3 separate regions of the Homo sapiens genome follow, and all the other regions are linked to region 3. The links come from fine-mapping of genetic effects on gene expression. A gene starts in region 3. Each other region holds a variant in brackets. All regions are shown on one strand. Distances are from middle to middle.

Region 1 (8,039 bases), 170 kb before region 3:
CAGTAAAATGGTAGCAGCAAAAACCCAGTTAGATAAGATTAGGGGGAGGATTGGAAATAGCATTTGTAGACAATCCTTTCAATGAATTTTGCTACAGAGTGTTAAAGCAAACTAAATATGGTCTGAGAAGGACTCTGTGCTTCATTTGAGCCCTTGTGGGTGTAGAGTAACCTAGCTTAATAGACAAAATTGAAAACCTAATTTAGGAGTCTGCACCTGTAACAATATTTGAATGCTGGCCAGTCCCAGCAGCCTTACATCACCACTCATAGACTGCTGAATGCTCAAACTGTGTTTAAATAAGGCAAACGCCCAGGTGACAGAAATCTCACTGTTTCTGTAACTCATTTCCGGTTCCTGGATGTCACTTTAACTTTTTTTCCCTATAAATTTGTTTTGACCACAAGGCACCCCTGGAAACTCTGTGAATCTGCTGTGATTCTGAAGGCTGCTGGATCGATGAATTGTTCATTGCTCAACTAATCTCCTTTAAATTTAAGTCAGCTGAAGTTTTTATTTTATCAGATTGTGTCAGAAGCAGAATCTGAAGTGGAGCTTCTAGTATCCCCAGGAGCACTGAGTAAACACAGAAGGTACCTGCGGGATCCACTTGTGTCCACTGATCTCTCAGAGCAGCTGAGGATCAAAGGTAAGCTCCCTCTTGCATTTTGGAGCTTCACACATTTGTGTTTTGAGCTCTCTGAGTTTCCTTGTGCAAATTTGTGATCCAAACTGGTTTTGGAGTTGCAACAGAAAATGGACTGGGTCTAGGAATGAATTTGATCTGGGAATTAACTGGCTTGGATCCACTTAGAGGCCACTAACAGTAGAGGCCACTAACAGCTGACTGGGTCATAAAGGAAGTGGTAGTAAGCAGTAATGTCGCAGCAGTCATAAAATTCGGCTTTGGGAAATTCACAGGGATTTTTGTGTTCTACCCATTTGTTTCATTTTTCTTGTGTACCTAGATAGGAAAATTCATTGGTTAAGTTAATCAAAAGAACCTGAGAGTAAAGTCAGTATTTTATGTAAAACTGGAATCCTTAATTTCTGAAAAACTGAGTTCTTTCTGGCTTATACATTAGGACTGGAAGGCAGAGAAGTCTTACACAAATGGCAAAATCTTACTAAAGATAACTTAGAGTGGAACATTCCAAATGAAAAACAATGCATTGAACTACATTTAAAAATGAGGGCTCTCAGTAAAGTCCCTTTTGGCTAAGAACCGGTTTGGCACTATAGAATGTCAACTGTTATACTCTTTGGCACATTTGTAAGAATTCCAAGTGTTAGGCCGGGCGCGGTGGCTCACGCCTGTAATCCCAGCACTTTGGGAGGCCGAGGCGGGTGGATCATGAGGTCAGGAGATCGAGACCATCCTGGCTAACAAGGTGAAACCCCGTCTCTACTAAAAATACAAAAAATTAGCCGGGCGCGGTGGCGGGCGCCTGTAGTCCCAGCTACTCGGGAGGCTGAGGCAGGAGAATGGCGTGAACCCGGGAAGCGGAGCTTGCAGTGAGCCGAGATTGCGCCACTGCAGTCCGCAGTCCGACCTGGGCGACAGAGCGAGACTCCGTCTCAAAAAAAAAAAAAAAAAAAAAAAAAAAAAGAATTCCAAGTGTTATTTCAAAGGAAATTTACAGATATGTTTCCAAATTTTCTATGCTTTTTTCTTATTTTTGTAATGAAACTGGGAAAAATTTCAAAATGGTTATAGATCTGAAATATTTGGCCCTAAGAAACTAAAGAAAATCTTTGCCAACTCCTGCTCTGAGGTTTCCAGTCACAACTGTTCTTAGATATTTCCTATTCCAGAAGAAAGAAGACTCTTCAGGCATCTGATGACCAAAATAAAAGAAACATTATGATGGTGGTGGTGGAGTGTTCTGCTACAGGCATGTGGGAGGCTCACAGAACTCTTAATATTCACTTTTAATTCATTCCACCAGAGAGGAAATGCATGGGTTTTGGATAGGACTCTGTCATTTATCCCTGTAAGAACTTGAGAAATTTATTTAGTCTCTCTAAGCTTTGGCGTATTCAAAATGAAGACGATACTAACAGTACCTACATCATGAGTGTTACTTGAATGGAGATGTGTAAAGTGCATTTTAATTTCATCTGGTCCTTTAACATTTTCCCTTCACTTCTCTTCAGAGTTTTTTCTTGAAGGGCTCGAGGACTGAAGCATCCCACAAAATGATTCTATTGAATAATTCTGAGCAGCTGCTGGCCCTATTCAAATCTTTAGCAAGGAGCATTCCTGAGTCCCTGAAGGTGAAGGAACAGTGGGAGGTTGGGGTATGGGAGTAGGGGTGTTGAGGATGAGAAAATAACAGGCCCAAGAATCTCGTCCTTCCTGACTTTGTGCAGAGGGTTGGAGCTGGGAAACAGGATGGGGTTGGGGACAAAGGAGGCATGTTAAGAGCTGCTGCTTCTCCTCGGCAACAGGCAACTAGGCCGACTCTGCAGATTTTATCACTCATTTGGAGAGGTGGTGAAGAATGGTGGCTACGAACATCGGTTTGGGGCCAGATTCAATAAATATGCATTGCAAGGCTGCCATTTTTTAGTCAGATATCATTGTGCCTGTGTCTTTAGCTTTCTATGCCTTTATCTTTGGTCTTTTCATTAATAAAATGGGAATAATATTAGTAGCCACCTATTAAAGTTGTTGTGGACACTGAATGAATCCATACAATATAAGTGCTAAGTGCATTGTCAAGTGCCCAGCTACTGCACAGTAGCTCTGTGGTATCACAAGGACACCTCCCTGGGAGTTCTGCCTGTTTGCTGGTGACTTCACGTCCATCAGTATGGTCCTGGAGATGCTGCTCATCACACTATCACCAACTTGGTCCCAGTGCTGTCTCCTGACTTCCATTTTTCTCTTCCTCTTCACATACAGACCCCCATCTCTGGGGATCTCAACCTCTCCTATTCCCTTTCATCCCTCCTTCAGGTGTATGGCTCTCTGTTTCACATCAATCACGGGAACCCCTTCAACATGGAGGTGTTGGTGGACTCCTGGCCCGGGTATCAGATGGTTATTATCCGACCTCAAAAACAGGTAGGCACACAGACAGGGACTGGTGGAGCCAGGCAGGTCCAAAGGGCCTGAGGAACTGTCCAATTCAGACACCATGGCTGCTTTCATAGGGTGAAAGGAAATGTGAGTATTTTAAAACACTCCTTCGTTAATGAGCAGCTTGCATGAATGCCACATGTTAACACTCTTCCCGTAAGCATAAGACTAATTTGGGAAAGGGGTTCAAGGGGGAAGGGGAGGAAAAGGACAAGGCTGACACTCACAGATTAAGGGCCCTTTGAGGTGGCAGGGGTCACCTGCAGGGGCTGAATGGAGGCCAATTTACAGGGAAAGTTGTGTGTCTGAGATATCAGAACAGTGATTTAGAAACAAAAACCAAGGCAGTAGTCTACCAGCAAAATTACCTCTCATGGCCAGGCATGGTGTCTTTTACCTGTAATCCCAGCA[T/C]TTTGGGAGGCCAAGGCAGGAGGATCGCTTGAGGCCAGGAGTTTGGGACCTGCCTGTGCAACATAGTGAGACCTCATCTCTACAAAAAAATAAACAAAATTAGCAGTGCATGGTGGTACATGCCTATACTCCTAGATGCTCAGGAGATGGAGATGGGAGGATGGCTTGAGCCCCAGAAGGTTGAGGCTGCAGTGAGCCAAGATCACACCACTCTACTCTAGCCTGGCCAACAGAGTGAGACCCTGTCATAAAAAAATAAAAGTTGCTTCTCAGGAACCAGGGAAGGGGCACACAATTACTGTGTGTCAACTGTTTGGAAGCACCTCACTCATTAGTGACTGTCATCATCAGAACAATTTTACAAAGTGAGCTTTAATATCTTCAATTTAGAGATGAGGAAACAACACTGAGAAATATTAAGTCCTGTAGCTGCTGGATACCAACTGTTAAAGCATTCCCCAATCTGAATTCAAGTTCAACGGACTCTGCCACTTTTACTAGCTATATAACCATAGGCCCTTCTGTGAGTTTTATCATCTGTTAAAATGGGAAAAATTGGAGGACACTCTTCAGAGGATCACAGAAGGTTTAAATGAGATACCATATGTCAAACACTTAGTACATAGCACATAATTCTAAATAGTATTTACCATAATTAGCCATTGTTGGCCGAGGAAACACAAGGTATACACGATTAAGCTGAAATAGTAATACAAACCTAGGTCTATTTTTTGGCCCTAAAGGCTTCCCCTTTTTGTATCTGTTTCATGCACATCTGGTTAGTGAACTGAAGCCTCATGGACAGCCCAGCTTCAGGTGGGTATAGACGCTGAGCCCCCACATAATAATAAGCTGAGCCTAACACCTTCCCAGGGATGTTCTTTTGATCTCAAGGTTTCCTGACAATTTCAGATGGAAGATTAATGCTTAGTTTATTTGATCCATGGTCCAATTTCTTCAAAGTGTGATATGCTAAATAACTGTATGAGGTCAAATAGTTCTTTTTACTTCAGTAACTTTGTAGTTACTATGTGTATTTTAACAATGTAACTGCACCATCAAGCTGTAACTTCATATATGCATTGCTTTGAACAAGGCTAGTTTTTATAAAGTGAGTCAGTAAACAAAAATATTAAAATATAAAAGTTCCATGCCACACATACATGACCAAAAAAATGGAAAGAATGAAATATGCTGCAATTTACTTGGAAATACATTCACCTAGTCTGATTCCATAGTATACCACGTTTCTTTCAGTATTGAAAATCGATGCAATTTTGAAGAAGACCTTTTTAAGGTGAGATGCAGGAGAATTTCTCTAGAAAAAAATTAATTTTTTCTTTCTTGGTTTTTAATCAGAAAGATAATATATGCTGATTATACAAGTGGAAAAATCCAATATGATTTTAAGAAGTTAATAACCTCTCACCTCCTTTGCCCTCCTCTCCTCCATTCCTACCCTTTGGGGTAATCAGTGTCCTTGCCCATATTAACACACAAACTGTCATCACTTTTTAATTTGCCTTTGACATATGGACATTGCTTTGAGTGAATCAATACAGCACTAACGTTTTCGTTTTAGTAACTGTGGTGTTCCATAGAGTCAATGCAATGCTAGTCAGTCATTCTCCTCCTGTTGGGTTCAAATTGTTCATACTTCTTTGCCATTACAAACAATGCTTCAGTAAACATCCTTGTATACATGTCTTTACATCCTGGAAACTTTTCTCAATGCAATTGGTTTCCAAAAGGGATACGTCCAAGTAAGAGCTTCTCTTATCCTAAGTAGGCACTGCCAGACTACCTTCCCAAAGGATTCCACAGTATTATTTCCATTAGCAATTTGTGGAAGAATTGTTTCCCACATTCTCACCAGCACTGAATGTTATCCTTCTTCTAATTTCTGCCAAACTGGTGGGTGAAAAGTGGCATCTTATTGTAGATTTAATTTGCATTTCCCTGACTAGTGATATTCAACATATATTTTCATATGATTATCAGTCATTTTGGGTTTACTTCTGAACTGTTTATATTGTTTGACCATTTTTACACTGGGATTTTGTGTCATTCTTAAAATTCTCTATGTGTTTTGGATATGAGGGATACTAACACAAGGTGTATGCTACAAATTTGTTGCCCAATTGAGAATTATTTTCTATTTTATTGATAGATTTTCACATGAAGCAATTTTTAATTTTCATGTAATCAAATATATTATCTTTTTCACTATGATTCCTGAGGCTTTGGGGGTTTTTTTGTTAATAATTAGGAAGATTTTTCCTAATCCAAGATCATACAAGTTGTTTTTTTCATTTTGTCTTACAGTGAGTTTTTACTTTTGACATTTCAAACTTCATTCTATTTGCAATATATTTTTGAATAGCATGCATTAACATTCTTTTATATTTATTCACCTTATGGCTGGCTAATTACATTAGTGCTATTTATTAAATAAGTCACTCTGCTACTGAAACATAAATGTCTATTTTGTCATGTAACATTTTTATATATTTTTGTAGCTATTTCTGTATTTGTTTTAGTCTTTTCTCATGCTATTTCAATGTTTTGTGGTAAATATTAATATCTAATAAAGCAAATCACCCTTCACTAATGTTTTTCTTGATTTCCTATTTCTTATAAACTTAAGAGCTATATGAACAAAAACTAATTTTTCAGTTCCCCAATTCCCCCAACTAAGTATTGCAATTGTGATTTGTATTGGAGGAGTTTTTTAGACAATTGTGGAAGCATTAATATTTTTGTGATACTAAATATTTTTATCAAGAAATATGGTCTTTCTCTCACTTTTTTCAGTTTCTGTTCTATGCCATCTGGTAAAATATTAGTGTTTTCCTGAGGTAAACTACATTGTTTTCTGTCGAAGTCTCTTATATTTTCTAAATGTGTAATACTGTAATCTATAAACAAAGTAATTTGCTGCTTCTTTGCCAATATTTGTATGGGTTTTTAGTTTCTTGCCTTATTGTATAATGTACAACCTAAGAAAACAATATCAAATAACCATAATAATAGTTCTATTCTTGTCTCATTCCTGATTCTAATGAAATAGCTATAAACACTTACCTTTAAAATTACATTTAATTCTGTCTTTACAGGCTTAGAGCACTTTCCTGTTTTCCCACTTTCATAGAAATTATATTTAGAATGAACGGTAAATTTTATGTTATTTCATTTTTGTCTTTTTATGGAAATTTATATACTCATGTAATTTTTTCCTCCTTTAATTTATTACCCTAAAAGATCTTCTGATCAAACTCATTCTGGCCTTTCTAAAACAAACTGTTCATGTTCACATTCTTTTCATATGCTACTGAATATTTTATTCAGAATTTTTGCATCTGTATTCATAAGCCAATATGGTCAGTAACTCTCTTTTTGTTATTTCTTTACCAGATTTGGCATTAGGATCTTTTCATCTTTTACCAAACAATACAATTAAAATTATGTGTTTGGTTTTGTCTTATGTAGAATTGAAATGTAAAATAATCTAATTTTGGCTACTTTTTAGTTTGTAATTTCAACTTTCCTTTTAGATAAAGGGGGTACATGTGCATATTTGTTACATGCAAATATTGCATGATGCTGAGTCTTGGAGTACGGACAGATCCCATCACCCTGGTAGTGAGCATAGTACCCGATAGGTAGTTTTCTAACCCAGCCCCTTTCCCTCCACCCTCTAGAGTCCATAGTGTCTATTGTTCCCACATTTATGTCCATGTATGGTCAATGCTTAGCTCCCAGTTATGAGTGAAAACGTGATATTTGATTTTCTGTTACAGCATTAATTTGCTTAGGATTATTACACTGTGGAAAGTAGTCTGGAAATTTCTTAGAGAACTTAAAACGGAGTTGCCATTAGACCCAGCAATGCCATTACTAGGTAAATACCCAAAAGAAAATGAATCATCCTACCAAAATGACACATGCACTAGGATGTTCATTGCTGCACTGTTCACAATAGCAAAGACATGGAATCAACACAGATCCCCATCAAAGGTGCATTGGATAAAAAAAAAACTTGCTACATACATTCATATGGAATACTACACAGCAGTAGAAAAGAATAAAATATTGTCCTTTGTAGCAACACGGATGGAGCTGGAGGCCATAATTCTTGTCCACTTTTCAAATGGTAGATGTTTAATTTCATTTCTGATATTTCTATTAGTTCACTGAAGTTTTCTATTTTTTGAAAGTCAATTTTGATAGTTTATTCTTGAGGGATAACATCCATTTCTTTATCAGTGAATATGTTGCCTTGGAGTATATAATCTTCTATTATAAGTCTTTTTTCTTTTCTGTTTCCGTTCTCATGGCTCATACTCTATGCCTTTTTTTCTCTTTTCTCTTTCTCTTCTATTTCCTTTAAATGCCTTACCAGAAGTTTATCTCTCTCTTCTGCTCTTTCTCTTTTTCCCATTTAATAATGAACTTTCTACATTTCAGTATTTATGGCTTTTATTTTTACAAATTGTTCCATTAGTTATTTTCTGGTTTACTTTGATATTCTCTTTATAATTCT
Region 2 (8,039 bases), 36 kb after region 3:
AATAGGGTCTGGAGTCAGGGAATCTAAGGACTTCCTAGAACTAAATCAAATAGAAACCCCAACTTTCTATATCCAAGTCAATAACTTTGTAACTTGACTTCAGCTATGTCAGGAAACATCCTCTTCTTTTGCATAGGGTATACACCAAATCAATAACTTTGTAATTTCACTTCATCCTCTTCACTTACATAGGGTATAAACCAAGTAACCAATGGGAAACCTCTAGAGGGTATTTAAATCCCAGAAAATTCTGTAACCATCGCTCTTGAGCCACTTACTTTAACCAGCTCCCACTCTGTGGAGTGTACTTTCATTTCAACAATCTGTAATTTTCTTTTATTGCTTTGTTTATGCATTTTGTCTAATTCTTTGTTCAAAATGCTAAGAACCTGGACACCCTCCACTGGTTACAATAGGACTATGTTATTGATATAACTGCAATGGCCGAGCATGGTGGCTGATGCCTGTAATCCCAGCATTTTGGGAGGCTGAGGAGTGCAGATCGCTTGAGGTCAGGAATTTGAGACCAGCCTGGCCAACATGGTGAAACCCCATCTCTACTAAAAGAATATGTAAAAATTAATCAGGTGTGGTGTTGGGCACTGTAATCCCAGCTACTCAGGAGGCTGAGGCAGGAGAATCTCTTGAACTCAGGAGGGGGAGGTTGCAGTGAGCCGAGATTGTGCCACTGCACTCCAGCCTGGGAGACACAGTGAGACTTCATCTCAAAAAAAAAGAAAAGAAAAGATATACCTGCAATATATATGATCTTTCTCCCATTCCAAGTGACTAGACAAGGCTGGTTCTGTGGAATCTGAATTCCAAAAATGATTGTGGAGAGTTCTCTTGTCCTCAACCTCAGCAGGGCTATTTACATTTTAGCAGGGTTGAGCCGCATAGCAAGATAAAGAGGAATGAAGTTCTAATGCGGTAATTCCCAGATGAACACTATATTTGAAGTGTGGTGGGCATTTATGGTTCAGATGATTTTCTAGGGTATGATGAAGAAAATATAGAAAGACTGACATGAGGAAAAGAAATGTGCTGTCTACCTTGATCATTTCTGTCCCCTCCTCTGTTACAGTGCCTAGCACATTACGTGTGTCCAATGAATAGTTTGTTCACTGCTTAAATAAAGGGTTATCAAATCATTACTATGTAGATACTGTAAACTTGTCCTAATCCTAAAACCACTGGGCCTTCCTTATTTTAAATATTGCATAGACGTCCAGAAAATTCTGGGATAGATCTAAAACACTAAAATAATGTAATATCAGAGCTAGAAACCAGCAAGCCTAGCCTTTCCCATCATAGGTAATAAAACTAAAGCAAAAAGACATGAAGTAAAGATCTGTACCATTTATTGGTACCAGATATAAAAAGTAGCATCTATATTTTATATCTTCAAGAGAAGCTCTTTCTGCTTTACCTTATTCTAAAACCTAGAGTCTCAAAGGTAGCTAAAGAAGACCCCAAGTAAACTAGATGGTTTTTCAAAAATTGCAGATACACACTTGCATATACCCATGACTCTAGAATAAAAAAAAAAAACTAGCCTGAAAGTTAAATGAAAAAAAAAATGCTTGTTCAAGTTCTATTTCTCCTGCTTCTTTGTAATGTGACTGTTGGAAAAATTATTTCCTTCTCTGAATCTTAATCTCCTCATCTCTTGTATGGACAATAAAAGTATTAGGTTAGATCAGTATTTTCTAGTCCACATTCCTTTATTCCTTACTTCCGTTTGTAAATAGAAGAAATGCAAAAACAAATTTTTTTCTGCAGAATTTCAGAATATTAAATAGATAAAGTCCAGCTTTCTGGTCAAAGTCAGAGGAGTAGGAGAGAAGGTCCCAGCATCTTGCCTGCTCCAACTTCCCCACCTTCATGAGTGTTTCTCACTCTCCCATTCTGTGACTCTATGATTCAGCAGTAATGATTCCAAGGAAAGAAAAGGGGCAGACTCATTTACAGCTCCTTACGCTCTACATTTCAGTTAGATGGCTAAGATCAGATGCTTGGAAAAAGAATGAAACCCATCTCTGCCAGCACCCATAGTACATGTTTTGGACAAAGAGATAAAAAGTATTTGGATGCAGCTATGTTAAATTGGCTACCAACTCCAAGAGAAGGACTTGGTGGGGGTTGAAAGAGACGCCAGTTCTCTCCCAGTTACCACTGGTTCTGTTTAGGTTGTGGGGTACAGCATGTCCCAGAGAGCACCTCTGGGCATCTTGGGTAGCTACCTGTGCTCAGGGATAAAGAAAATGCCAGCTTTGTTTGGGTACAGTTGATTTCCATTGGCTCAGCTTCCATGTTATTCCTAGTTCCTGGTGTGGTTCCAATAATATATCCCTGGAGTCAATGCAATCTGAGACTGGTTTTTGGCTCCAAAATATGTGACAATTTCAGACAATAGCAGTTACCTTTGTAAAGCACTAGATATTTTACAGAACCCTTCTGACAAAGATAGACAGAGAGAGAGAGAGAGAGAATTTTAGGAAAACAATAGTATAGTTCAAAAGTAGAATGGATAGCCCAGAAAGCTTTAAATTTCTCATCACTGGACGTGTGTAAGCAGAAGATGGTACACTTGACAGTGACAGGATTTAAGATTTAAAAGACAATCTGAATTAGTTAACCTTATGGGTTCCTTAAAATCCTGAGATTCTGATTCTGTGAAACAAAAAGAAAGAAGAAAGGAGATTGACATGTACTAACATTTTTTATTGTGTGCATAGGGCCTCTTGTAACACTTTATTTCATAATATCCTCATTCCTCCATACACCACTGCCCCTATAAGGACCTGAGAAATGGATGGCAATTTTTTTAAAAAATCACCTGATAACACTTATCTTTCAAAAGATCAGTGGGCAGGGAGTTTAAAAGAAAAATAACCTCTTGCTGTTTGACTAAGGCCAGATTTCCCTCATGTACGTGTTTTGTTTTTGATTTATCAAATATCCATCTTGAAAATACTTGAAGTCTATTTGTGTGTCTTGGGGAGGACATACAAGAAACAGAAGGAAGTGGGCATTGTGT[A/G]AACCCACAGCACACCACAGCTTCTTTCAAGGATTTGTGAAAGATGGTGGCCACACCCTGTTGATGTTGGCAGCTCTTCAACTTGCATCCAGATGAGAAAAATGTTACAATTTCCCTTCTCCACCCAAAACCCCATCAGCTTCTCCTCTGCCAGGGCCAGAGTCTCCTACTGTGAAGCTAAACAAATTATACTCCCTCCTCGAGTTCCCAGCTCTGGGCATCATGCCTACATTCTTGGGGTCTCTCTCTGAGGCTAGATATTGGAGAAATGATTACTATGGCCAATTCAGTAGTTTGTAATTAAATCTTTTTTTAGGGAAAAAAAAACCCTAAACCTAAAGAATCCTCTTTTTTTTTTTTATATATCTTATTGCATACTGAAGGGTGTGAGGATAGTAAACTAGAAGACTATGGTGCTTTACAATTCCTGCCTCCCTTGCTCCCACCTTCAGAATGGATTGTTCTTTAATACTACTTGAAACATTATCGGTAGAATCAATAGAACCCTCTTTTCATGTCATCTCCAACTCCAAGAATTTTTTTGTGGGGGGACTCAGGCAATTTTAAACTGATTGTTCATAATTCGCCTTCAGACTCTCTCAAATTCAATTCTTCCTCCTTAACCTGCAAATGGACCTCCTTAAAGCACAGATCCAATCATGTCATTTTTTGCTCAAGAGCGTTCATTAGTTTTTTTGTTCACTGATGGCCTGATGACATCCAAATTCCTTATCCTGATCCTCAAATCTGTCACTGCTCAGTGATGCTTAATGAACATGGCATGGAACTCAAAGAGAGAAAATATAAACAGAAGGCCATTGATTTGGCAAGAAGGAAGGGAGGTGTGGTCTTCCCAGAGCAATTTCAACAGAATGGTAGGGGTGGAACTCATTGGTCTCAGATAGGGATATCCGGAATGGAGCTCAGAGGGGATTTGAACAAGGCCAGGTACTGACGGAAGTTATGCCAGTTTAGCAGTGGAAGGAGAGAAGAAAATGGAAGAGTAGGTACAACAGCTGGCAATGTCAAACGAAGGAATCCTCAAGATTGAGGAAACTCGAACAGGTTTCAAGACTGCTGCAAAGGCTTCAGTGCTTTTCAGAGAGGGATACTCTGAGGCAGTGGTTTTCTGCCTTGGCTGCTCACTGGATCACAGCCAGTCATTGGTAGGGCCAGAATTTAACTAGTGCCTACAGTCACAGGAAAAGATAGCTGCATGAGAATGCAGGCAAGTGGTAATGGAAAGAACAAAGAACCCAGAATCAGGATGAGAGAGGCTTAAAGAGGGAGGTGGTGGCACAGAGGACAAAGTTGTAGAATTTTATACTTTTGCTTAAAGCAGGTCTTGTCTGTCTTTGTAAATAACTATTTTAGCTCATTGAAAGTAACATAAACATTCATTTATTTATTTTGCTGTAACCAGAATAAATAGGAGAAGATGTTCTCCGAAATCTGTTCTCAGTCTTCAGATAGACTTATAAACCAACCTGGTAAAACCTAGAAAATAGTTGCCCAACCACATCTGTAGGGCATCTGTGGCCTTCCACCCATAGTGCTTGCTGTCTGTTCTTTGAAGAGACTCTGATTCTTTGATCCTGCTTGGAGTGATGGCGGGGGTAGGCCCTCTTCTGGGAAGCCATAATAATATGGTATCCCCTGCTGAGAGAGCCCACCCTGAGCTTTTCTTTGAAAAGCTTTCTGAGACCAGGAACACGGCAAGCATGGAGTCATTGGGAATCATGTATCCAATTGACTCTCACGCATTGCGACATCGAGTTATCCCTTAAAATAGACCTGGAAATAGCTCTGAAAATTATCCAGAGCTGATGTGACTTGGGAAAAGTATAATTACCCTGAACTTGCTTGATCTTGAAAGTGGCATTTTGTTGGCAGGGCTCGATCTCAAGGAAGAGAGGCAGTTGTGGCTGGAGGCGGTCAGTTAGGTTGGTGAATGTTCACTGGAGAGGGCTGCCCAGTTGCTTCCCAGATGGTGAGAAAGACCTATTCTATGGGATGCCATAAAAAGCCATACAAGTGAGGACATCTCAGTCTACGTGGATGTTGATGGTTTGGGGAAGGGAAGAGGGGCAAAGATATAGGTCATGATGTATCCGTTTATTTTACTGAATCATTAATTATTCCTGAAAATCTAAAATTAGTCTTGAAATTTTCTCTGCCAGATGAGGCAGGATGACAGAAAAAATAACAAAAACCAGGTTCTTTCTGTGCACTGCCTACATCATGTCTTTGATTGAGGTCTCAAGACATCACTCTTCTCAAGTTGCTCACCAATGAGTTCAATAAATTTAAAAGCAACTACACCTGGCTGGTAATGTCAAAGAATGCCTTCTTACCCATTTATTGCCTCTCCTCAAGACCAAATTTCAAGCTCCATAGTGCAGAAAAAAATCTAGATTGACTATCTCACTGTGATTGTTTCATTTTTCTGTATGCCTCTCAGGTCGACATTTGTTTAGCCCTCTATGTTTAATGGTGCTGTGCTAAGTATGGTGGCAATGAGAAAGATGCATCAGACAATGTTAAGGTTGATGTCCCTCTAGTGCTCCGGCTGTACATTGTCTTGAAGGGATGCCTCACCAACTTCAAATTCTATGCCACCCCAGTCATATGACTTGGCAGCCCCATTCCAGCCCTCACCATAATAGAAAATTGCTTAATTCCAAAATCTCAAACTCTAAAATTTCCCTTTACTAAAACTGCCTGTTCTACTCTGCAACTCCCAGCCAATCTATTCTTGGTTTTCATGATTTCATGCTTCTCAGGCTCTCCCAAATTCCTAAGCTCATTATCCCAGCCCTCAGTGATTCCCACTACCATCCCTCACCATGTTGTTTTTTTCCCATGATATCCATAAGCTTAGTCAGGCTGCTGGTGGGCTTAGCTATTCAAATGAGCCCTCTTTTCCCACAAGGACATTCACTGCTTCCTCGAATTTTTTCTGAGCCTCTTTTTGATTTCCTATCCTCTTCCCCACAGCCACCTCAAGACAACCTTTCTTGACACCCTTAACAGGATATGATTTCTCCCTTTTCTGAACTCTCATACCTTGTACTTGTTATGCCCTCATGGTTCTCAGCACTTTCTGATTCAGATAATAGTCGTGTCTATTTGTGTAGTTTCTCTTCGAGGTCTTTTAGGGTTAAAGTTCTTATTCATCTTTATATTTCAGAGCTTAGCACAGTGCCTGACATCAAAAAGATGCCCACTGACTGTTTTCTGAATTGAATAGGATGACTTTTCCAAAAAGGAACTTTTAAAAAATAATAGCTTCATCAGGATATCAGCTGCAAAGTTTGGAGGGAGTAGCTTTACAGAGAAGCATAATAAAATGCACACTGAGAATTATTAGTTTTCTATTGCTGCATAATGGATTAACACAAATTTATCAGCTTAAAACAACAGACTTGTATTATGTCATAGTTCTGTAGGTCATAAGCTCAACACAGCTTTGATAGGCTCTCTGCCTATAGTCTCCCTCCTGAACAGGGTAAGTGAGGACATTGAGGCTGTTTGTCTCTACCCACCTTTTCAAGCAGAATGTCACCTCTTTCTGCAACTTGTCAAGTAGAAAGAGAGGACATTTTAACGTTCCTTTTGCAGATGAGAAGTCATAGGTTGAAGTTACTTGGAAATAACTTCCTGCTTATTTCAAGGAGGAATTTTTCTTAAAGTCAAAATTTTTTTTATATTTATCCAAAGATAAAAGGGGCTGACTTGAGAGGTTGCAAACCCTTTGGATAAAGAGAATTCTGGAAACAGAGCAGAGGTGGATTTATTCAGCCTCTTTCAGACATTCATGCCAAGATATTTGTAGAGATAGGCCGGGCGCGGTGGCTCACGCCTGTAATCCCAGCACTTTGGGAGGCCGAGGCGGGTGGATCATGAGGTCAGGAGATCGAGACCATCCTGGCTAACAAGGTGAAACCCCATCTCTACTAAAAATACAAAAAATTAGCCGGGCGCGGTGGCGGGCGCCTGTAGTCCCAGCTACTCGGGAGGCTGAGGCAGGAGAATGGCGTGAACCCGGGAAGCGGAGAGCTTGCAGTGAGCCGAGATTGCGCCACTGCAGTCCGCAGTCTGGCCTGGGCGACAGAGCAAGACTCCGTCTCAAAAAAAAAAAAAAAAAAAAAAAGATATTTGTAGAGATAATCCCAGCTGGAGTGTCAACTATTTAAGACAAAGAATATCTTGTTAGGGCCATTGTGGAAAGGTGTTAACATTCTGTCCCCTTGAGTGACCCTGGTGCTCAGGCATGCCTGGCCCCTCCTCTGCTGATCATTAGCTAGGTCATCTTCAGCAAATGCAAGCTAACTTGTACTCCCTCGCCCATCAGATGTGGTCTCATAGCCAGGCTGTCATGAAGACCGAGTGTTCATGGATATAAACTTTAAAAGAGTTATGCCCATGAAAGGCAGTTTTATCATTACCTCTAGCCACACCACCACCTTTGTGTTAACTTTTCTGTTACTGGAGCATCTTGGGATGGACCTCCCGCTACTGGTTATTGAAAAACTGACAAGTTTTACATTGTGGTATCTCATTTTAGGAGACACCCAGACACATAATACTTTGTTCAATTTTACAGGCCACCTCATATTCACTGGTTAATTTGGTCTTCTTGGGTGGGTGCTGTGGCTCACGCCTGAAATCCCAGCACTTTGGGAAACTGAGGTAGGTGGATCACCTGAGATCTGGAGTTCAAGGCCAACCTGGTTAACATGGCAAAACCCTGTTTCCACTAAACAATACAAAAATTAGCCAGGCAAGGTGGCATGCATCTGTGGTCTCACCTATTTGGGAGTCTGAGGCCTGAGAATTGCTTGAACCTGGGAGGCAAATGTTGCAGTGAGCCGAGACCGCACCACTGCACTCCAGCCTGAAGGACAGAGCAAGACTCCATCTCAAAAATAAATAAATAAATAAATAAATACATACATACATACATACATACATACATACATTGTCTTCTTCACAGCCA
Region 3 (8,039 bases):
ATTAACAAAGAGAACAGTCATCCTCCACAGAAGATAACTCATTAATGACATTTGATTCAGTGAATAAATATATCATTTAAAAAAATATTGTAGGGGGATCATGAAAGTAGTGGAGGTAATTACAATCAGGAGAGATTGGTATTAAAATTGAGCAAAGTCCCAACTCTCACCAGATGACAATTATGCATCCTGCTAGATGCCCCAGGGCTGTCAGCCTGGAACTGAAATAAATGTGTTATAAGTGGTGCTGGATGCCTTTTTCAGTTCATTTGAAAACATGGATTTGATCATGTCAGCTCCCTTTCTGCTGGAAAAAAAAGTAGTTTGCATAATTGGTGTTAACTACTCTGTTTTGATTCTACAGAGTAAGTAATACTCAAATGTGGTCTTACTTTAACTTCTTGCCTTTGTTACCCCCAGAACCATGCAGACATTGAAATGTGGTGTGCGTGTGTGTGTGTGTGTGTGTGTGTGTGTGTGTTCATATAACAGGAGGACAGGAAAGGTAAGGACCCAGAACAATGAAGACTTATTGAAATGTGGTATGTGTGTGCGTGTGTGTGTGTGTGTGTGTGTGTGTGTGTGTGTGTGTTCATATAACAGGAGGACAGGAAAGGTAATGACCATCCATGGAAGATGAAGGGGTAGTACTTAGCACCAGAATCTTTTCCAGTTTTTACCCATCTTTCATTACTCCTTGTCTCCAAATCATCCCTTCCTTAATAACTTAAAATAACTTAAAATATTTTCTGAGGACTTGATGACACCAGTCAGAAGTCCAAGAGTGGTCTGGTATAAGGGAGTGTTCATCAAGGGGCAGCTGGAAAAAGTGGAATTGGCACAGGCAACATCTTTCTTTTCAGATGTTTGAGGTCACCCAGAGGAGATAACAGTCTGTCAACATAGAGCCCTCAAAGTTAAAAAGCAGTAGCCAGGCAAGACTTGTGTCTTTTCAGGGCTCTTCCAGGCTCTAAGAGTGTGAAATTCAGACAGGTTTTTAAAAATCAAAATAAAAGGAGAGTAGTTCTTACAGGCAGAAACTCTTAGAGCTCACAAATTGGAAACAACTGCAAACTTCAGAGTAAATTCATAGCTTCCAAATACAAATGTTCACATTGTCCCTCCGCTATTTTTACACAAATGCATTCAGGTGAAGACAGCAACACACATTGGGAAAGGACATCTGCTTCCTATTTTAGTCCCAGAATCACTTTTGCTTCTAGTCCCAACTGTTCCCTCTCCCCAATCCCAACCTTATCCATGTAACAGTATGAATTTCCTGGCCCAGAGACCTAAACAAGAAGTCACGAATATACCTACTTTTGGTTGCACTTGCCATTTCAATGCTTAGGAAAACAGAGTGGTCAGCAATGACCACACTGGAGATGAGAGAAACCATTTTCGGGGAGAGATTTAAGCTGGACTCTGCCCCTGCTCTTGGTAAGTGGTGTCTCCAGTTGCTGCAGTGCCTGGAACCAAACTCTGCCTTTCCTCAATTGCCTGATATGCTTTCTTCTTGAACTTCCGGGTGCCGTAGATGGCCAAGGTGATAACAACAGCCAGAATGGTGGTGACCCCCACTGTGACCCCAGCTGCAGCCCCTCCTGACAGACCACCACCATCCCCATGGATGACATTCATGGCCCTCCGCAGCTCTATCGGTTCTCCCAGCCTCCACTGGTGGGTCTGGGAGTCTTTAATCCAGGATCTCGCATTCTCAGAATTGGTCACTATGACAGTATTGGTGGCAGCCTGACTCATGAGGGGTGGCCGGGTGAAAGGTGGGAGCCTGGCAGGGGGCAGGGACCCTCCTGTGAAGAGCCCGGATTTGACGCAATAGGACACTTGGCATCCATCGCTGATGAGGGCTGGGTGCTGGCTGAAGCCCCCGGGGCACTTTTTCAGAGACGGTGCCCCTAAATCTCTGGATATAGCAGGATCTACCAGGGGGTTCCCAACTGTGCAGCTAAAGAACCCGCCAAAGGGGACCGCAAACCTGCTTCCCAACTCATAGTCCTGAGAAACACATACCTTGAGGTTTTCAAAGAGTCTCAGTGGAAAGTAGCCGGCTGGGCATGACTGTGCATTTGTCATGGGGTTTATGCTCTTGCTGCTGAAGAGGCCCCCAAAAAGCAGTCCTGAGTTTTCAGGTACTTGGCTGCTGGCCACACACCAAAAAGCCCTAAATTCAGCTTTTGCCACCTGGAACACATCTTCACACACGGTCTTGCAGAAGACGAGGAGAGTGCACTTTCGATGACACTCCAGGTGGTTGTAACCCTCCTCGTGGATCTGGGATAACAGGTGCACCGGGGAGTAGCCAGAGGGGCAGGAGAAATCACCAGTGAGTGGATTCTTCTGCTCCAACTTTTGGCAGAGGAGGACATCCCTATTCCCTGAGAGCTGAGTGCATTCCTGATAAACCCCACCGAAAGAGAAGTTGGTCATTTTCCCCTCGCAGGAGCCATCATCCGTGTTGGCCTGAAAATTGAAGTTGGGAGAATTGAGATCTGTGCAGCCAGGGTAGGTGTTGAATGTATAATAGCGCTTCACAGCAGTTTCCACTGTCTTTGACACCTTCTTCACCAGGGGGCCTGGCAAGTCAGGTAGCATGTTGGGGTTGATGAAGAAATGCAGCGGCAGGCCAGAGCGGTCGATGGCCACCAGGTGGTTGGTGATACCCTGCTGCCAGGCCTGGAGGGTGATGCCTGGGTAAAAAGGAACCCCTCCAATGCTCTGCACCCTGGAGTTGGTTCGGTTTGAGAGGTAGCTCTTGGTGAGGACATTCTGCGAGGTATAGTTTTCCTCAAATTTGAAGTTCACGGTGTTTTGAAAGGCAAGTCCAGCAGAGGCGGTCACGGCACTACGACTGCTCTGGCTGTCTTGGAGGAAGGAGGCCCTGAGGTGGTCCTCCTGAATAAGAGCAGCCCCAGCGTCGACACTGGTGGTGACGTGGGTGCCATAGTTGAGCACCAGGAGTTCTGCCAGGTAGGTGGCCATCCTCGTCTGGTTGTTCTCTAGACGGTCAGAGATGTCAAGGAGTTCCTTCCTAAAACCTGAGCTTAGCTCTAAAGTTGGGTTGATTTTGACTGTGTAGACGAGGTTTCTTACCTGAACTCGGGTAGTTATAGCTTGGTCCTTCACTTGGAGGGTCTTCATCCTCTGGAACTCAGTGGAAAACTTGCCATTGACTTTGGAAAAAAGAGAGAGTTCTGTGTTGATGGAGTAGGAGGTGCTACTCTGGTAATTTGCCCAGGATTCCAGGATTTCTGAGTTCATCTCCAGGTTGCTCTGTTTCTGGGGAATGGTGAAGATTTCATCAGGGATGATATACTGTCCATCCTCTGTTGTCCTGCAGTTGGAGTAAGTCAATTCCATAACTCGTCCCATGTCCACATTCCGCAGATTGTCCCAGCCCCCTCCAGGTAGGACTTCCAGGACAGGTAGTTTCAAGGCATTCTTGCATTTTTGAACTCCAACTTCGTCCATCTCTCCCGAAGGCTTGCCTGATTTAGCCCATGCTGCCGCTGCCCAGAAGAGGATGGTGGCCCTGAAGTTGTTCATGGCTCAGACAGCCCCAGCCACTCACCAGCCCTACACAGCGGCCAGCAAGCTTTGGGCAAACTAAGATGGAGAAAACAGAAGCAGATGATGAAGCGGAAAACTCATGAGTTCTCTAAAAGCTACAAGTTCCTCTTTAAGCTAATTTAATGACAAAATGGGGAAACGAGAGTTGGTTGGAATATTAAAGACCATCAGGTCTTTGAAGAATTTATGCCGTACTAAACATGCAAACACACCCCTACATGCCTAACAGGTAGCTATCCTAATTTTTCCCCCAGCTCTGGCTGGTTACTCTGCTGCAGGGGTGTGCACTTAGAAAAAAATCCCGACCCCACACCCTACTGCTTCCTCCACCAGAAAGTTTGGCTTTGCTTTTTGCTCATTCTCTTGGACTTGATGTTTCATATTTTCCCTGACTGCTGTCTCTTGGGACTCCATTATCAGTTTTCTTTTACTATAAATGCAGAGGCAAATGACCACACCACCCTTACTGAAACACCCTGGCTCCACCATACCTATGCAAGCTGTTAGTCAAGGCCAACCCTGGGTTTCCTCTTTGCCTGAGGGTGGAGGCTGTTTCCACAAAAGAAAGGAGTGAAACTCTTGGACACTTGTCCTGTGGGTTTCACTGTTATGAACCATAGCAATTCTGTCTTTGGGGATGGCATTGTCTGGAGCACAGCTGACAGGGCCTGAAGAGGATTCGGTTGCAATATGCTGGGAAACCCCAATTTGCATTGTCCTAAGCATTCAAAGCGAGGGCAAGGAACTCCTACACTGTGTTGTTTTCATTCAGATAGAAATGTTCAAGACAAAACCACACTATTATCTAGATTTTGATTTATCAACAGCAGACAGGGGCCAAGGAACATATGTGTATGTGTACACACATTTATATATCCTCTGTGTGTGTGCATTTTGTATGAAGTTGGTACCTGTTATACCTTTAATTTTTTGTTCCATTGCTAAGTGTGTGTAATCAGTTTAGGTGGATAAAAAAGAATGTGGCTCTTCACTACCCAATATTTTTTCTAAAAGCAAAAATTCATTTGCTATATCATTAGAAGAATATAATTACATGAGTTTCTTTTCAAGTTCCAATGCCAGCTCTATTAGAGCCCATAATTTAAAACAATGGTGACAGGTTTGATTGAAACCCAACTCTGTTAATTCTTTGGGACAATTAGGCTATGTCTTAGTATGCTTAGTGGTAGCCAGGGAATCCAGAGGACTTAGTGAAGCTCCCAGTTGCATCCTTAACATTCCCAAGATTATACCATGAACTAGATACAGTACTGAGACTGAAAAAGTCATGTTGCAATTCACAGGTATCACTACACCATCACCTGTATGCATCCTGGAAGGAAGGTTCCAAGGAGTTGAATTCCTCTGTTGGTTATTAATGCAGCAAAGAAGTGTTTTTAGAAAGAATGAGGCTAGTTATCTTGCTTCCCAGGCTGGGCTTCACCAGTTATTATCAAAACCATGATGGTGTTCTATAAATCTAGAAATACTGCATTCCGGGTATATTTTTTTTTCCAAGACAGGGTCTTGCTTATTGCCCAGGCTTGAGTGCAGTAGCTATTCACAGGCATGGTCCCACTACTAATCAGCATAGGAGTTTTGACCTGCTCCATTTCCAACCTGGACCCGTTTAGCCCTCCTTAGGCAACCTGGTGATTTGCTCCAAGGAGGCCACCATATTGATGCTGAGCTTAGTGCAGACACCCAACTGGCATAGCACACTACAGCCCAGAACTCATGGATTCAAGCAATCCTCCCACATCAGCTTCCCAGGAATCTGGGACTGCAGTCATGCACCACCACACCTGGCCATTCTGGTTCTATTTGTGCCACAGTTATCATGCTTCTGGGAAGTGACACCAGCCACCTAAGAGGGATTAATTTATGAACCAGTGCCTAGTCTGTATTTGGCTAAAGAACCAAATCTTTGCACAGGATGTTCTAGTTAATTTATAAATCAGTTAGCCATAAATTTATACCTCAGCAGCATGATCCCAGAATTAGAAAAATGAGAGTTGAATGCCCTTGAGTACTTCCAATAAGTCTGTTGAAATACCTACATACTTCTCTTCAAACTATTTCTGGGATGGTTCATCAAAATTAGAATACTCTCACACTGCTTTGGAGACAAGCTGACAATTTGTTACCCTCTGCTTTCTCTTTAGTAGACCCTGTTGAGAGCTCACTCTCCTGAAATGAGAATACAAGCAAGGTTAATACAGACAATTCTATATTCAGGTGTTCCTATGTCTCCAGACGTCTAGTCACTGTATTTTTTATTCTATAGACTTTGTCTTCATTTTATCATAGGAAAAAAAAATTGAAAATAGCAGAAAGAGCCAACAACGGTAAAATTACATTGTACCCATAAGACAAAATATTGTATAGCCATCACAATTATTTAAAACTATTTTAATAACATGAGAAATTCTTATGCCATAATGTTACTGGAAAGGGTTCCCAATGCAGACCTCAAGAGAGAGTTCTTGGACTTTGTGCAAGAAGGACCAGGGCAAGTCCACAGAGTAAGGTGAAAGTAAGTTTATTAGAGAAGTAAAGAAACAAAAGAATGGCTACTCCATAGGCAGAGCAGAAGTATGTGCTGCTTGATTAAGGATACTTATCATTATTTCTTAATTATATGCTAAACAAGGGGTGGATTAATCATGAGTTTTCTGGGAAAGAGGTGGGCAATTCCCAGAACTAAGGGTTCCTCTCCTTTTTAGACTATACAGGGTAACTTCTGGAAATTGGCAGTCATGGCACTGGTGGAAACATCTTTTAGCATGCGAATGCACTACAATTAGTGTATAATGAACAATGAGGATGACCAGAGTTCACTCTTGTCGCCATCTTAGTTTTGGTGGGTTTTGGCTGCCTTCTTTACTGCATGCTCTTTTATCAGAAAGATCTTTGTGATCTGTATCTGTATCTTATGCCAATCTTCTATCTCATCCCATGACTTAGAATACTTAACCCTCTGGGAATGCAGCCCAGCCTTCTTTTACCCAGCCCCTATTCGAGATGGAGTTATTCTGGTTCAAATATCTCTGACAATAATGTTATGAAAAAAAAGAATGATAAACATTCAGCATGACCCCAACTATGTACATAACTAGAGGGATGTACGCCAATGCATAGACAGTAATTACATCTGGTTGAGAGGTTTTTCTAAATTATTTTAATTTTTTCCTCTTTTCTGTGTTTTTTGAGTTTTCAACAATGAGCATGTATTTATTAACTCGAGAAATTTGTATTCAGAGCCTATTAAGTACCAAACACTGATGGGTATTGGGTAATCATCACTTTTGTGCTCAGGAAAATAACCAATGCACAACCATGTAAAAAAAAAACAAAAGAAACAGGCCAGGCAGGGTGGCTCATGCCTGTAATCCCAGCACTTTGGGAATCCGAGGTGGATGGATCACTTGAGGCCGGGAGTTCAAGACCAGCCTGGCCAACATGGAGAAACCACATCTCTACTAAAAATACAAAAAAATTAGCCAGATGTAGTGGTGACACACAACTGTAATCCCAGCTACTTGGGAGGCTGAGGCAGGAGAATTGCTTGAACCCAAGAGTTCGAGGCTGCAGTGAGCCGAGATCGTGCCACTGCACTCCAGCCTGCGAGACAGAGTGAGACTGTCAAAAACACAAACAAACAAACAAACAAAAAAACTTAGTTCTGGAATTTTTATATTCCTGAAATGACCCAAAGCCTATGGATTATGTGACTGCTGTGCTCAAGGAAGTTCTCTTTCCAGTTCTCTGGGAAACAGTGAAAGGAGAAGTGCAAATGATGGGAAATTTGGCTTAACTTAATTTTACATACCAGGAGCAGAAGAACTGCTCATAACAGTCACATATGAGGAAGTGGTGACCAGTGCATTTTACCCACAACTTTTCTGTTTTATTCTGTTCACCAGAAATTTCCTTTGCTTTTTCTTGTACTGGAATGCATATGCAGTCACATAACCTCCCCAGATGGCCACACTTGAGGAGTAATGGCCTGTGGCTAACACTGATCTCTAAAAGAAAGAGGCATCTTGTCTACAAAAACTTTGCATCTGCGTTGCTGAACGGCGATTTCACTTCCTCCAAAAAGAGGCAAGAAGGAAGTCCCACATCTGCTTTCTTTCTCTGTTTGATCCCGTGCAACCTTCTGACACCATCTCATTCAGCGCCAAACCGTGATTCATATCTGAGGTTCGCTTCTGTGTGGGCTTGGAACTAATCCAGGTGTTTCCTACTTCTGCATTTCACCTGTGGTCTAAAATGGGGAGGAAAGTCTAGTTGCATTTGCTGGGACAATTCCCTTTCAGCAGGAATCTAGGAAACCAGTGTGAAAACTGATGGTTAAATAATTACTAAGTAGATCAGAGAACTATGGCTTTTAAAGACTTTGCAGTAAACTTTGTTATGGAAAATCTGGAAAGTATCAGTGAACAAAG

The links. PIP is the estimated chance that this variant, and not a neighbour inherited with it, causes the effect.
Region 1: its variant is the best candidate, but not a certain one, in a credible set for the expression of MPEG1 in whole blood (TOPMed, PIP 0.57).
Region 2: its variant is the best candidate, but not a certain one, in a credible set for the expression of MPEG1 in whole blood (TOPMed, PIP 0.50).

What each region holds. Positions count from the first base shown.
Region 1 is chr11:59,040,538-59,048,576 of GRCh38, forward strand. All of the region lies in intron 3 of GLYATL1-AS1 (GLYATL1 antisense RNA 1), which reads right to left. It also overlaps the pseudogene GLYATL1P4. Among named protein-coding and RNA genes, the nearest start is that of GLYATL1-AS1, 14 kb to the right of the region's middle. The variant T/C (reference allele first, on the strand shown) is at 3,497.
Region 2 is chr11:59,244,931-59,252,969 of GRCh38, forward strand. No RefSeq gene overlaps it. Among named protein-coding and RNA genes, the nearest start is that of MPEG1, 36 kb to the left of the region's middle. The variant A/G (reference allele first, on the strand shown) is at 3,041.
Region 3 is chr11:59,209,302-59,217,340 of GRCh38, forward strand. MPEG1 (macrophage expressed 1) reads right to left here and starts at 3,626. Exons shown (of 1, transcript NM_001039396.2): 1 at 1-3,626. The coding sequence starts at 3,564. The coding sequence ends at 1,414. It also overlaps the pseudogene RN7SL42P. RefSeq lists an enhancer at 3,603-3,802.